4 linked regions of the Homo sapiens genome follow. The protein of the gene in region 1 interacts with the protein of each later gene in a biochemical or structural test. Each region holds a gene or a part of one and is shown in the gene's direction. Other genes may lie near its edges.

Region 1 (3,500 bases):
AAGAGGCTTGTGATTCATTTATCTGCTGAGTAGGAAAACAGCTTAGTAGAGACAGAAAGAGTAAGGGTACCAGAGAAAAGATTATTAGTGGATCAAGGCCCTTTATTTAAGAGGTAGACTCCAGAGCACCAAGGAATGTATAAGTAATTAATGGTCCAATTGGAAATTTGTTTTTCAACTCTACAACTCAGCTAAAATGAATGTATATCTTAAAGATATCCAGTGAAGATAGACACTTTTATTTTTTGAGGATATTTGTTCCTCAATTAATTCCTGGAAATCATTTCTTTTATAATGCCCTACAATTTAAAAAGAGATGTATCAATATTTTAAACATTATTGGCAAAAGGGTGAGAATATCATCTATAAATTTTGCATCAACAGAATAGCTATTTTCATTTTTCCATTTTATCTGTTACTTTCTTAACCCTATACTGTTTATCCATTCCAGGAAGTTAATACAGATTTCTAAAAGCAAGTTATATAGTATGAGTTTACTCTATTTGGTATGCTATTTAAATGATACTACTTTTTCTTCTTTTTTCCTCCCAATAAGGATCAAGATTCCCTAAAGAAAAGCCAAGGTGTTGGTCCAATTAGAAAAGTTCTCCTCCTTAAGGAAGATCATGAAGGCCTTGGCATTTCAATTACAGTAAGAAGTAGTACTTCCAGTATCATTTTCTACAGTTATCTAGTATAATCATGCTCCTTTGTTGGACATCACTGGGGAACAGAATATTCTGGATATATTTTTTAAATAACTAAAATTTATCCCCATGGGGATAAATGTTTGCTTTTGTGTAAATATTTTTTTAAGAAATAAATATTCCTAGCAACTATTAAGTGTACCTTTAGTAAGCATAGTTTAACATTTTTATTATGATTCACTTAATAGTTCTGTGCCATATACTGTGATGCCTCTAGGAGCCCTTGGGAATAGACGTGGCTGTTTTCTTCTATGTTAAATGGCTTCAGATTGTATTGTTCTCTCTCGGAGTACGTGTATCTTTCTCTTGCCTCATTTATTAGCTGTCAGATTTCACTGGCTCTTGGGTCCAAATGTTATATATTCTTTTTTTTAAATTCGATGCCTTTAGGAGTCATTTTGTTGTCATCTCAGTGCTTTAATGAATAAGGTGGCTTTAATTTTCATTTGGTAATACTTAGGCACTGAGCAAGATCATTTGTTTTTTTAGTATTGCTTAATGTAGAAATGTTTCTTATAATAAAAAGCTCATCTAATCTATATTTCTTGAATACTTACCTTTTTTTTTTTTATGTGCTGCCTTCAAAGAGCATACATTTTAGCAGGACAAATAAGACACACACACACACCCCTACACACACGCAACAATGATATAAGCTAGAGAGTGATAGGTACCAAATACTGCATTTTTTCAATTCTACATTGCATATATTTTCATATTTTAACTTCTCTGAAATTGAAATTTATCTTATAATCTTAAAATTATTTTTGTGGCACCTAAAATAATTGGTCTTGTCATTCGTAGTGATTTAGACTTGATAAAATGTAATGGTGCTATGGAGTACTAACACATAAGTTTTTTTTAATTTAAGAATTTAGCCAATTTCTGTTCAATACTCTGATAATTTTTACCATTACTTAAGTAGCAAATAAAATTTTACCCAGCATTTATAGAGACAGCATAGGTGTTTAATGAAATATATTTTTAAGAAAATATTTTATCTCTAGATTAATCGGTAACTGTACCTTACAAAGAGTACTTTAATTTACTGCCCTTTGTTGTTGTTAGGGTGGGAAAGAACATGGTGTTCCAATCCTCATCTCTGAGATCCATCCGGGGCAACCTGCTGATAGATGCGGAGGGCTGCACGTTGGGGATGCTATTTTGGCAGTCAACGGAGTTAACCTAAGGGACACAAAGCATAAAGAAGCTGTAACTATTCTTTCTCAGCAGGTAAATTCCCTTCATGTAATTAGAACTGGATCTATCAATTGGTTATGAATCTATTGAACACTGTATACTTCCCTACGAAGTTTCTAAAGTAGTAAAGTGTTTACACATAGTTCTTGTTTCCTTTGATTTAATGCTTTTATAGCTGACATTCAGTCAGATTTACTGAAAATGGACCATTCCATTTTGTTTACTTCATAACTTTGAGCAAGTTACTTAAGTCCTCTGTCCCTCAGTGTCCTCACCTGTGTGGGAGGGATTGAAAGAAAGCTGTGAGGATTAAGTATGTTAATACATATAAAGTACTCAGAACAGGACCTGAGACTGAAAAAACAACATCCTTAATGCCTAGAACACTATATATAAGGTATTACAGAAAAGACAGTGCTAGAAGTAGATTGATTTTAGTCATGGAATATTAAAATTGAAATCACACATAGAAACTATCTAGCCCAACTCTCTTAAAATGAGTAAACTAAAGTTCTTAGCGATGAAAGGATTTACTCAAAGTTGCCAAGCAAATAAATTATAGAATTGAGATTCATACTCAGGAGTCATATTTGTCATACAGTTGTACTTAAAATGTTGTTTTATTTTATTTCTTTCAAGAATAGAGTTGAGGGAATTAGAGGCATTGGTAGTACATTGAGATGTTTCTTGGATTATCAGTGTGGTATGCCTCTGTAGAATTGCATCTCAGAGTTGAAAGTGAATATTGTTCATTGGTTCAATTCTATATGATGCATAAATCTTTGCAACATCACTACTTCAATAATTACATTACAGGGAAGACTTGCTGATATCAACCAGTCCATTCCATTGTAATACAGTACTGATTTTTAGAAAGCTTTTTCTCATATTAAGCCTGAAATCTGTGTCTCCATGACAGCTACTCACAGATCTAATTCTGTCATCTAAAACTTTGCTGAAGACCACTGCATCATCTGTCTCTTTCTGCAAAATGGTATTTTTAAAGCATTAGCTGACAAGAGAGATCTAAGAATGCTACGCTATTCTCTTAAGTTAGTGTTTTATCAATCCATCTTGACTGTCATCCAGTAGCAAAAGAGTGGGATAACTGGTGAAGGAGCTATCAATGGGCAGCCATAAGTTTTAAGGAAATGCTAACTAAGCACATATTAAAATTCTGAGGTATAACCTTAAACTGCTGGGAAAGAAGAGCACCAAAGAGACTAACTTAGTGAGTAGCAGTCAAAAATGCCGTGTTTTCTTTTGAGCAAAGGCAAGCCATAGTTTTCAGAATTGCCAACACCACACTTATATGTAGTGGTTGGAGTCTCTTATTAAATGACAATTATAGCTTGGAAATTTTTCTTTTAACATAAAACGATCTGTAACATTTTTTTCTTTTTTGGAGCCAGGATCTCACTTTGTCACCCAGGCTGGAGTGCAGTGGCACAATTACGGACCACTGCAGCCTCAACCTCCCAGGCTCAAACAGATCCTCCGACCTCAGCCCCCTGAGTAGCTAAGACTACAGATGCCTGCCACCATGGCCAGCTAATTTTTTTTTTTTTTTTTTTTTTTGTAGAGATGGGTTTT
Region 2 (3,500 bases), on another chromosome or scaffold:
GTGGGAATTTAAGATGAGATTTGGGTGGGGACACAGCCAAACATTATCAGGCCCTTTCCTTAGTCTTTCTTGCCTTCCTTTAACCTGTGCTTTGCTTTCCCTCCCCATCCCTTTCACTGCAAACTCTTTCTTTCTGAAACAGTTTGATCACAGATCTGATCCTTACGTGGCCAGCTCCTTGCCTGGGTGAGCAGCTGCTGCAACCTTAATGAGCCCCAGGCCCACCCTGACAGGACCTGTCTGGCTCTCAGCCCCCAAGGGAAGACCCAGATCCCATGACCCCATCAGTGCTCAGAAATCAGACCCCCAAGCTGGAGGCAGTAAAGGCACCAGAGACTCACTCAAAGTCAGTGAAAGGAAAACAAGGAGGGACTTGGGAGGCTGTGTGGAGTTTTGTGAGCTGGTTTTGCAGGTATCTAAGTCTGCCAGCAATGTCCCTTTCACATGTGTCCTGGGGCCCTTGGCTAGGACTAGGACAGCCTCTTGAAGGAACTAAACCAGAACAAACAAGACAGTAGAATCTCTTCCCCTTCCCACCCCTCTCCTCACAACTCCCAATATGGACACACATCCCCTGCACTCAGGGTGCCCTCCTTCTCCCCAAGCACCTGTCTGCCTTGCTCTTAGTGTGCACCCTTTTCAGTCAGTTCAAGCATCTCTGCCTCTTTGAAACTATATTCTCCACATCATCTTATAGATTCTTTTTTCGAGACAGAGTCTTGCTCTGTCGCCCAGGCTGGAGTGCAATGTCACATTCCCGGCACACTGCAACCTCCACCTCCCAGGTTCAAGCGATTTTCCTGCTTCAACCTCCCCCGTAGCTGGGATTATAGGTGTGCACCACCATACCCAACTCATTTTTGAATTTTTAGTAGAGACCAGGTTTTGCCATGTTGGCCATGGCTGGTCTCGAACTCCTGAGCTAAAGTGATCCGCCCACCTTAACCTCCCAAATCATGCCTGGGATTACAGGCATGAGCCACCATGCCTGGCCAGATTCTTTAATGTAACATCTGTGGCCCACCCGTGTTCATAACAGCATTATTTGCAGTGAGCAGTAGGTGGAAGCAGCCCAAGTGTCCATTGACTGAGGAATGGAAAAACAAAATGTGATACGCACGCATAATGGAATATTATCCAGACTTAAAAAGAAGGTGATTCTGACACATGCTGACATGTGTGATTCTGACATGGATGAGCCCTGAGGACATTATGCTGAGTGAATTAGGCCAGACACCTAAGGACGGTGCTATAAGGTTCCACTTACATGTGGGTACCTGGAGTAGTTAGTCATGGAGACAGAAAGTAGGATGGTGGGCGGCAGGGGTAGGGGAATGGGCATTAGTGTTTAATGGGTACAGAGTTTCAGTTTTACAAGATAAATGGAGTTTTAGAGATGGATGATGGTGACGGTTGCCCAACAACATGAATGTATTTAATATAATTGAACTGAACATTTTCAAGTGATTACAATGATCAATTTTATGTTACTTTACCACAATTTGAAAAGTACATAAAGTACCTTTTGTGTATTTTACCACAATTTTTTTTTAAAGAAGATAGCACGATGGCATGATTTATAATTCTGGGTCAGCATCTCACAGTACCCTGAGCCTCTTAAAGTCAGGGAGCATTTTATATTCGTCTCTGTACCCCCAGAAAATGGCATGCTGCAGGGCACATGGTGGGTGCCTGTGAGAGTGAGGGATATGCACATACAAAGAAATCGGTAACAAAACACACACGACAGCTCCCGCAACAGCCCGTTCTCTGGGTGTCAGTGTTAGATACTTTCGGAACTGCTCTTTTCAGCTCTTCCCACCACAGACCCATTTAATGGGCTATAGTCACAATTGAATGAATGATACCCTTGTGCCATGAAAAATAAATATACAGCTTCATGCCCAGAAGATACCCAGGGAACCAGCAAAAGCTGATTCCTCATTATCTACCCAGCATCCTTGTGAGTGTGAAGAAGGTGGAGACCACTCTGCAGGCAGCATCAGCTGTAGCTCTTGCTGAAAGCAAGGTTTCTCAGATTCTGTTCCTGATGGGGCCAGGGGGATGTTTGCTTACTCTCAGACAATGTGTTATTAGGTCCTACCTGATCAACATCATTCTGTTAGTTTGGCCACGTTGTAAATTTCTCTTGTAGCCATAAAATATGAATTATCTACAAACCTCTGTTGTACACATTAGAAAACAACCTATATCCCCACATTGATATCGTTCCATCTTAAAACCCCCCCAAATCATAGGATTACCTGAGATCTGAAATGTGGGAGGGTAAATTGAATTTGAAGACTGAATTATAGCTACAACCACTTGGCTTTTGAGACAGAGTCTCGCTGTGTCATCTAGGCTGGAGTGCAGTGGCGCAATCTTGGCTCATTCTGCCTCTCAGGTTCAAGCGATTCTCCTGCCTCAGCCTCCCGAGTAGCTGCAATTACAGGCACCCGCTGCCATGCCTGGCTAATTTTTGTATATTTAGTGGATCCGGGGTTTCACCATGTTGGTCAGGCTGGTCTTGAACCCCGACCTCAAGCAATCCACCTGCCTCGACCTCCCAAAGTGCTGGGATTACAGGCATGAGCCACTGCGCTGAGCCCCACTTGGCTTTTGATTTGTGTCCTGGTTCACTCACAGTGTCACCTTTAGCTTCATTTGTGTATTCAGGCAACATCGTGGTGAGTTGGTTCCACTTTTTGTGTGTATATTCAGGGTTCGTCTCCTCCACACCTGCCTGCAGCCCCAGGATCTCAGGCAGTCCCTTTGCTGTTGGAGCTGATGGAGAGGGGCATTGTTTCCAGTGGAGATGTAGGAATGTGTCCACACAGCAGAAACAGGGCTTCATTCTCTTTCAATTGCTTCATCTGCTCAGATTTCCTGGACATTATAACAAATAGGAAAAAGTAATAGGCGCTAAGTAGGTTTCTAATTCACAGAAGAAATAGCAAGTAAAAAAGAATGAACCAAAATGAGGTATATACCACCCTAGCCTTCCTGGTTAGATTCCAAACACTGGCTGCATTTTTCATTTAGATGGTTTTGTGGTTGATTTAATCATTTTAGAGAGTACTGGGCCATTTTAAAGCATTTTTCAGCTCTAGAGGTAGATTGATTTTGGTTTGTTATTTTTTTTTCCTTGCTCAAAGCTATTACTTGGATAATACCTTTTTACAGATGTGTACTAGACCTTGCTATAGTGTGCAAAAATATTAGTTTCTTATATTCTCTCCTTTTTTACATTAATGTTTGCTGAGAAACCCCTCCTCTCACAGCCAGATTGTCCCACTTGCCCTGCCTGCTTGCTCATCTCAGGGGCTGGGATCAGCATCACCTGCCTCTGCTTGGAAACATGTTAGAAATGCAGACTGTCAGGCCCACCCCACCCTTTTGATTAAAATTGCACTGGGACAAGAACCACCCCCACTCCTGCCCCTGCATTAAAGCCGTTGCTCTCCGGTAAGCAATTTTGGATGACTAATAATCTGTGATTT
Region 3 (3,500 bases), on another chromosome or scaffold:
CCAAGCTTCCTACTGTTAGAAGTGTACCTTTCGGCTAAGGTATCTCCAGAAGGCCCGCATTTAAATGTAGTCATTTTATACATCTGTGTTGTGTGGGAAATTTTTTTTTAAATAGTCATTTTATTAGGAGAGTTAGAAAGCCAACTTTTTCTAAGCCAGTCTTTGAATCTTTGTACATTTCTCTTACTGACTTGTACTTGGCATTATGCCCTGGTTTACACTGAGAAAAATTACAGCAAAAGAGTTATACAGTGCTCCGTTTTCTATTTATTTCAGGAGTGTTGTTTAGAATGACGATCATGAAATCACTCCAAAAGCACTCTTTACAAAGACCCATTTAAAAATATATCTTAAGTCTCAATGTTAGGAGAAGTTGTGTCCCTTCTATGCAACTAATTTGTTTTACTTTTTGGATACTAATACTTGATCATGTTTCCCTGTTTGGCCACTTCGAAGTTCAGAATACATTTGTGAACCTCATAGTTTATCACAAGAGTTAGGGGAAACTGAAGGTCTTTCTGTCTCTTTCTCTCTCTCCATCTTTTTAGGAAATTACCAAGCTGCTGCCTTTCCATAGGATTTTTTTGGATCGACTAGAAGAGAATGAAGCCATAGACCAGGACCTGCAGGCTTACATCCTGCACCGGATACACAGCAGCTCAGAGATCCAGAATAACATTTCACTTAATGGCAAAATGGACAATACTACATTTGGCAAACTCAGTTCTCATCTCAAGACCCTCAGTCAAGGGTCCTATCTATATCTGAAACTTACATTTGACCTCATAGAGAAAGGCTATCTAGTGTTAAAGAGCTCTAGCTACAAAGTAGTTCCTGTTTCGCTCTCAGAGGTTTATTTACTCCAGTGCAATATGAAGTTCCCAACCCAGTCTTCCTTTGACCGGGTGATGCCTCTCCTGAATGTGGCAGTGGCCTCTCTCCACCCACTGACTGATGAGCATATCTTCCAGGCCATCAATGCTGGGAGCATTGAAGGCACACTAGAATGGGAGGATTTTCAGCAGAGAATGGAGAACCTCTCCATGTTCCTAATCAAGCGCAGAGACATGACTCGTATGTTTGTACATCCTTCTTTTCGAGAATGGCTTATCTGGAGAGAAGAAGGAGAGAAAACCAAATTTCTCTGTGATCCGAGGTAAGACATATATCTGTGATAAACAATTCTGAGTCTGTTTTCTGTTTATTGCATGGAGTGTGAGTATTGAAAGTAGAAGTGTTCTTCATTGAACATTTCACATAGAAGAGACATCATCTGTGTTTCTTCTCAAGGCAAGGCTATAATGAGGTTAACTAATTTATTGTTTTACAATGTTATTTCCTTAAGACTCAACATCTGCATAGATATTTAGAATGCTATCCTACGTTCCTGTGTTCTTCTAAATAATTTTCACTGACCCCACAGGGTTCACAGGCTATAATTAAGTTAACCATTTAATGGACTTCCTCAGTATTATTATTCTGATATGAAGAAAGAATTGATATATTGTAAATCTCTTTGATTTAGGGCAGAATCATTTCAAAGTTTTTATTGCCCTTTTATAAAACCTTATCATTTTTAAAGTTTCCAGTGACTAAATCCATTAAAGTCCAGCCAATGCTAAGCTTTATACTAGAAAATACAATCTTAAACCTCCTAGCTGAAAAAGATTTGAAGAGATCAGCTGGTCTATCCATGCTGCCTTTAGATACGTAAGGTGTCATTATCTCCATTTTGCTATAAAGGCCTTAAGATGCTGGATCAACTTGCACAAAGTCATAAGGTTAATACATGGGAGAAGGGAGGGGCACACACCAGAATAGGGATCACAAGTGCATGATATATCCCACCACTCCCCACCCCACACGCACAACAGGATCACTGATTTACCCCAGCACTCTTTCCCAATGAGCTTGAACCTGACTTGAGAATCTTTCTCAACTCAAACCAGACTAGATATGAAACTGTTTCCCTTTTTATTGCATGAAACCTAGTTCTCTGGCATCCTGGTCGGGGTGTGCTTTTACTCCGTCATACTAACATTTTTAAAGACGTATTCCTTTAATAAAGTTGGTGTTTTCAAAAGCCGGGTACATTACTGACTTCATGGAAACAAAGAAGACACCAACAACATAGCTGGCAAATGCAGAGCTTATTTTGGCTCAAAAAGAAGAGGCCAGATTTGACTATGCCTCACATGTGACTCATCAGAAAGAATAAAACTCTGTGTTCATGCTGGGGTTTTATTGCCCTTCACCGTGTCCTTCACCAGGCCTTATTAGAGACAACTGTACTGTGGGCATGCTGCTCAGCCTACTCCATGCTGATTCATCAGAAAATTAGTTCCAGATTATGATGAAGATATTAAGCCAGGCAATAGACTTTGTAGCATTTTCTCTGAGAGGGAAGCTTTTTTAAAGAAACATGCTGTAGTGGAAAGAACATAAACTCTTGAGTCAAATTACCTGCATATAAATCCTGCCTCTTCTAGGAACTTTGACCTTTGGAAAAAGTTACATAGTGTTTCTAAGACTTAGTTTTCTTATCTACATAAGAGCAATAATAATGCCTTTTTTCTAGAGTTGTTGAGAAGTTAAGTGAGGTCATATAGTATGATGCCTAGAATAGTACAGAGTAAAAGAAACACTTGGGGTATGTTCTTTTTCCTCCCCTCACCCTGCAGTAATAGACCCTTCTGGTGTATCTTAGTTAAATCCTGTGGCTAATCGGATAGCGACAGCCATCTTCTGCTGTTATCATTTTGGAGCACAAGATTTTAAAAAGAAACAATAAAAACAATCCAAGTCCCTTCTGTGAATTGTATGATGTTCCCAAAAGGATTTTACTATAAATCCTACTAGAGCTGTTGTCAATATTTAATACAAAGAACTGGCAACTATGTATATAGGAAAAAGAAACTAATGTAGAATTGCCTAATAAACGCTTTGAGATCAGTTCCCAGAGAAACTTTGCTAGCTGATCTGGGACCTTAGATCCTGGGACATCTCAGAGGATTGAAAGCTGAGGTCCAAGGCAACCAGACTACCACTGAATTAATAGTATCCTTACAACAGATGAAATCCTCAGGGGCTCTCAGAGGAGAAAATACGGCTTTTATACAGCCATATCATGACTATACAGGCTTTGCCTTCTCAACATCGCATTTTAACTAGGAGTTTTGCAGCAACCGACTGATGCACTGGGACAAGAGGAGCAGGTACTTCCAACTTCAAATCCTGTATAATCCGTTCCCTGATGATTGAATAGCATGGCTGCTGAGAGATCATCTTATTTCACTTAATGGCAGAGAGTAAAATTGTAAACAGGACCAGGAGTTATCAAAAAAAGCTTTCTTAGATTTCATTTCAGTTGGAACTCAGCCCCCTCCCCAGCAATGGCTGGCACCAACCTTGTTACTAAAGTACTGAAGTATTGATCTCAGTGCTTAAGGCTCCCTAGGTCAATGAGATGGAAATTCACTAAGAATTTAATGCTATTGGCA
Region 4 (3,500 bases), on another chromosome or scaffold:
GCAATGTAGCAAGAACCCAGCTCTTTAAAAAAAAGAAATTCCAGCCTGGACAACATGGTGAAACCCTGTCTACTAAAAATACAAAAAATTGCCGGGCGCGGTGGCTCACGCTTGTAATCCCAGCATTTTGGGAGGCCAGGGCGGGTGGATCACCTGAGATCAGGAGTTCGAGACCAGCCTGACCAACATGGAGAAACCCCATCTCTACTAAAAATACAAAATTAGCCGGGCATGGTGGCGCCTGCCTGTAATCCTAGCTACTAGGGAGGCCGAGGCAGGAGAATCTCCTGAACCTGGGAGGCGGAGGTTGTGGTGAGTCTAGATTGCGCCACTGCACTCCAGTCTGGGCAACTAGAACAAAACTCCATCTTAAAAAAATAATAATAATAATACAAAAAACTAGTTAGAACTAGCTAGGCGTAGTGGCGGGCGCCTGTAATCCCAGCTACTCAGGAGGCTGGGGCAGGAGAATCTCTTGAATGTGGGAGGCAGAGGTTGCAGTGAGCCGAGATCACACCACTGCACTCTAGCCAGGGCGACAGAGTGAGACTCTGTCTCAACAAAAAAACAAAAGAAAAAAAAGAAAATTAGGCCGGTCGCCGTGGCTCACGCCTATAATTCCAGCACTTTGGGCGGCTGCAGCGGGCAGATCACTTTAGGTCAGGAGTTTGAGACCAGCCTGGCCAACGTGGTGAAACCCCATCTCTACTAAAAATGCAAAAATTAGGCCAGGTGCAGTGGCTTAATCACGCCTGTAATCCCAGCACTTTGGGAGGCTGAGGCGGGCGGATCACCTGAAGTCGGGAGTTCGAGACCAGCCTGATTAACATGGAGAAACCCTGTCTCTACTAAAAATACAAAATTAGCCGGGCATGGTGGCACATGCCTGTAATCCCAGCTACTTGGGAGGCTGAGGCAGGAGAATCCCTTGAACCCGGAAGGTGGAGGTTGCGGTGAGCCGAGATTGCGCCATTGCACTCCAGCCTGGGCAACAAGAGCGAAACTCTGTCTCAAAAAAAAAAAAAAAAATACAAAAATTAGCCGGCATGGTGGTAAGCGCCTGTAATCCCAGCTGTTTGGAAGGCTGAAGAGAATCACTTGAACCTGGGAGGCAGAGGCTGCAGTGAGCTGAGATAGCGCCATTGCACTCCAGCCTGGGCAACAGGAGTGAAACTCCGTCTCAAAAAAAAAAAAAACAAATAAATAGAGAGTATAATAAGAGAAAAAGGATATAGGAGTAACCTATATCTTTAGTCTCTTATCTATAAAATGGGAGAGAGAATACTTATCTGGACTAATTCATAGTGTTATTATATCAGATTGAAATACAGGTATACAAATATTATCTAAACATTAATGCCAAAATTTAAAAAAAAGAACCTAAAGGACTTTAGAGCACATCTATTTCATATTTCAGAGAGGAAGGGGAGTCTCAGAGGTCAAGAGACCATATTCAGTTATGTGCATAATTAAGTAAAAGAAAAATGTACTTGAATTTAACAGATGTGCTTGACTTCTACAAACATTTATCTAAGACAGGGTCCTGACTTGAAGCTACAAATAAAAGGATATTTCATGAATTTGACTTTGAAAACATGGATGAGAATAATTGTGTAAGTGCAGGTTTGTAGCTGCATCATGTGATCCCAGAATCCCTGGTCACTGGTTCTTAATTTGACCTTTGTGGGTCCCTCCTATGAACCCTGATGCACCTCCCCCATATTATTTAATTAGCCTTGTTGCTTCTCCCTCCCTCCACCCAGCACACACTATCTTTTCTTTTCTTTCTCCATTTGGCAAGTAGAATATTCTAATGAGGTGATCTGAACCCACTTCTAGTGCAAACTTCACCTCAGAACCAGTTGTGTGTTTTTTTTTTTTTTTTTTTTTTGAGATTGAGTCTTGCTCTGTCGCCCAGGCTGGAGGGCAGTGGCGCGATCTCGGCTCACTGCAATCTCCGCCTCCCGGGTTCAAGCGACTCTTCTGCCTCAGCCTCCCAAGTAGCTGGGACTACAGGTGTGCCACCATGCCTGGCTAATTTTTGTATTATTAGTAGAGATGGGGTTTCACCATATTGGCCAGGCTGGTCTTGAACTCCTGACCTCATGACCTCCCCACCTCGGCCTCCCAAAGTGCTGGGTTTACAGGCCTGAGCCACCGCACCTGGCCCCAGCTGTGTGATCTTAGGCACATTTACTTCTTGTACTCTCAGTTCCTCATGTAAACTCGGGATAATAATATACGTCTTGCCGATCTGTCATGCTTGTGTCCAGGATCAAATGATGCAACGTGTCATAATGTACACGAAAACACTTTTAAAAGCACCACATGCTCCACAAATGTCGAGTATTATTATTATCCTCATCATGGCTCTGCCCTTCCCTTCCATCCCTTGCCTCCAGCCCTGCTGGCTTCCTTCCAGGATTGTCCTGACAAGTGGCTGCAATCATTTGTTGAGAAGCTTTCTCTGAACAGTGAAATGTCATTCTGGAAGCTGCCCTTGGACTAGTAGAAATCTAATTAGATTATTGGGAGTCACAGAGAGAAAAATTAGAAGCAAAAGAAACTGCATTCCCATGGATAAAAGAAGTATTAGCTGGCAATTGTAGCAAAAAGCACTTAAAGAAGACATTTAGGATCATGGTGACAAAGTGTGAGAGCCAGAGGGAGCATAAGTCTGGAATCCCTTCCTCTTAGGGTCTGTGAATGGAGAAGCCCTGTCCACTGGGTCTGTGACTCCTTCTTCCTGGCATTTCTCTGTCCACTCCTGACAGGGCCCACCTCTTTCTTTCTCCTTAGGCTCCCTGGCATTGGGCAGTGTTACAGTGCACTCTTCTGAACCTGAAGTCAGAATTCCTGAGAATAATCGTGAGTTGGGAGGGGCCATGGAGGGTGTGAGGGTGAGCAGTTGCCGGCCGCCTGGGGATCTAGAGAGCACCCAGCCCAGCCTGCAGTTTGGGGCTGTTCCCCATCTCGTGTATTTGCTGCTGCTTCTTCCTTCGGCTCATTTTGACCCTGTCTGCAGCTGTGAAGTTGTCCTGTGCCTACTCGGGCTTTTCTTCTCCCCGTGTGGAGTGGAAGTTTGACCAAGGAGACACCACCAGACTCGTTTGCTATAATAACAAGATCACAGGTGAGTTGCTTCTCCTCCTTCCTGATTGCCTAGGTTGTGGAGGGATTATCATGCCTGGATTCTACGATCCAGACTTTGTGCCCTTATCCCAGGGCACACCCTGGGGCTGAAGTCCTCATGGCCTTCCTACCCCCCTTTCTGGGGGAAGAGGAGAGCACTTGCGTACCTTGGATGCCCCCTTCATCAGCCTCCCTTAGCTCTCCAGTTCACTCTGTCCTTGCTCTTGCCTCCTCTTGTGGTAGCTTCCTATGAGGACCGGGTGACCTTCTTGCCAACTGGTATCACCTTCAAGTCCGTGACACGGGAAGACACTGGGACATACACTTGTATGGTCTCTGAGGAAGGCGGCAACAGCTATGGGGAGGTC

What was found. The genes of interacting proteins can lie anywhere in the genome.
Region 2: the proteins of GOPC (region 1) and ABCC4 interact in a test that uses a peptide from one of them, tested with the Homo sapiens proteins (one large-scale study listed by IntAct).
Region 3: the proteins of GOPC (region 1) and TANC2 interact in a test that uses a peptide from one of them, tested with the Homo sapiens proteins (one large-scale study listed by IntAct).
Region 4: the proteins of GOPC (region 1) and F11R interact in a test that uses a peptide from one of them, tested with the Homo sapiens proteins (one large-scale study listed by IntAct).

Annotation. Positions count from the first base shown.
Region 1 is NC_000006.12:117,568,012-117,571,511, reverse strand, and holds part of GOPC (Golgi-associated PDZ and coiled-coil motif-containing protein), read left to right. Parts: intron 1-556; coding exon 557-652; intron 653-1,653; exon of another isoform or gene 1,654-1,775; coding exon 1,776-1,940; intron 1,941-3,500.
Region 2 is NC_000013.11:95,067,452-95,070,951, reverse strand, and holds part of ABCC4 (ATP-binding cassette sub-family C member 4), read left to right. Parts: intron 1-3,500. UniProt on the Homo sapiens protein: ATP-dependent transporter of the ATP-binding cassette (ABC) family that actively extrudes physiological compounds and xenobiotics from cells.
Region 3 is NC_000017.11:63,354,235-63,357,734, forward strand, and holds part of TANC2 (protein TANC2), read left to right. Parts: intron 1-548; coding exon 549-1,156; intron 1,157-3,500. UniProt on the Homo sapiens protein: Scaffolding protein in the dendritic spines which acts as immobile postsynaptic posts able to recruit KIF1A-driven dense core vesicles to dendritic spines.
Region 4 is NC_000001.11:161,000,653-161,004,152, reverse strand, and holds part of F11R (junctional adhesion molecule A isoform 1 precursor), read left to right. Parts: intron 1-2,799; coding exon 2,800-2,868; intron 2,869-3,025; coding exon 3,026-3,133; intron 3,134-3,375; coding exon 3,376-3,500. UniProt on the Homo sapiens protein: Seems to play a role in epithelial tight junction formation. Appears early in primordial forms of cell junctions and recruits PARD3.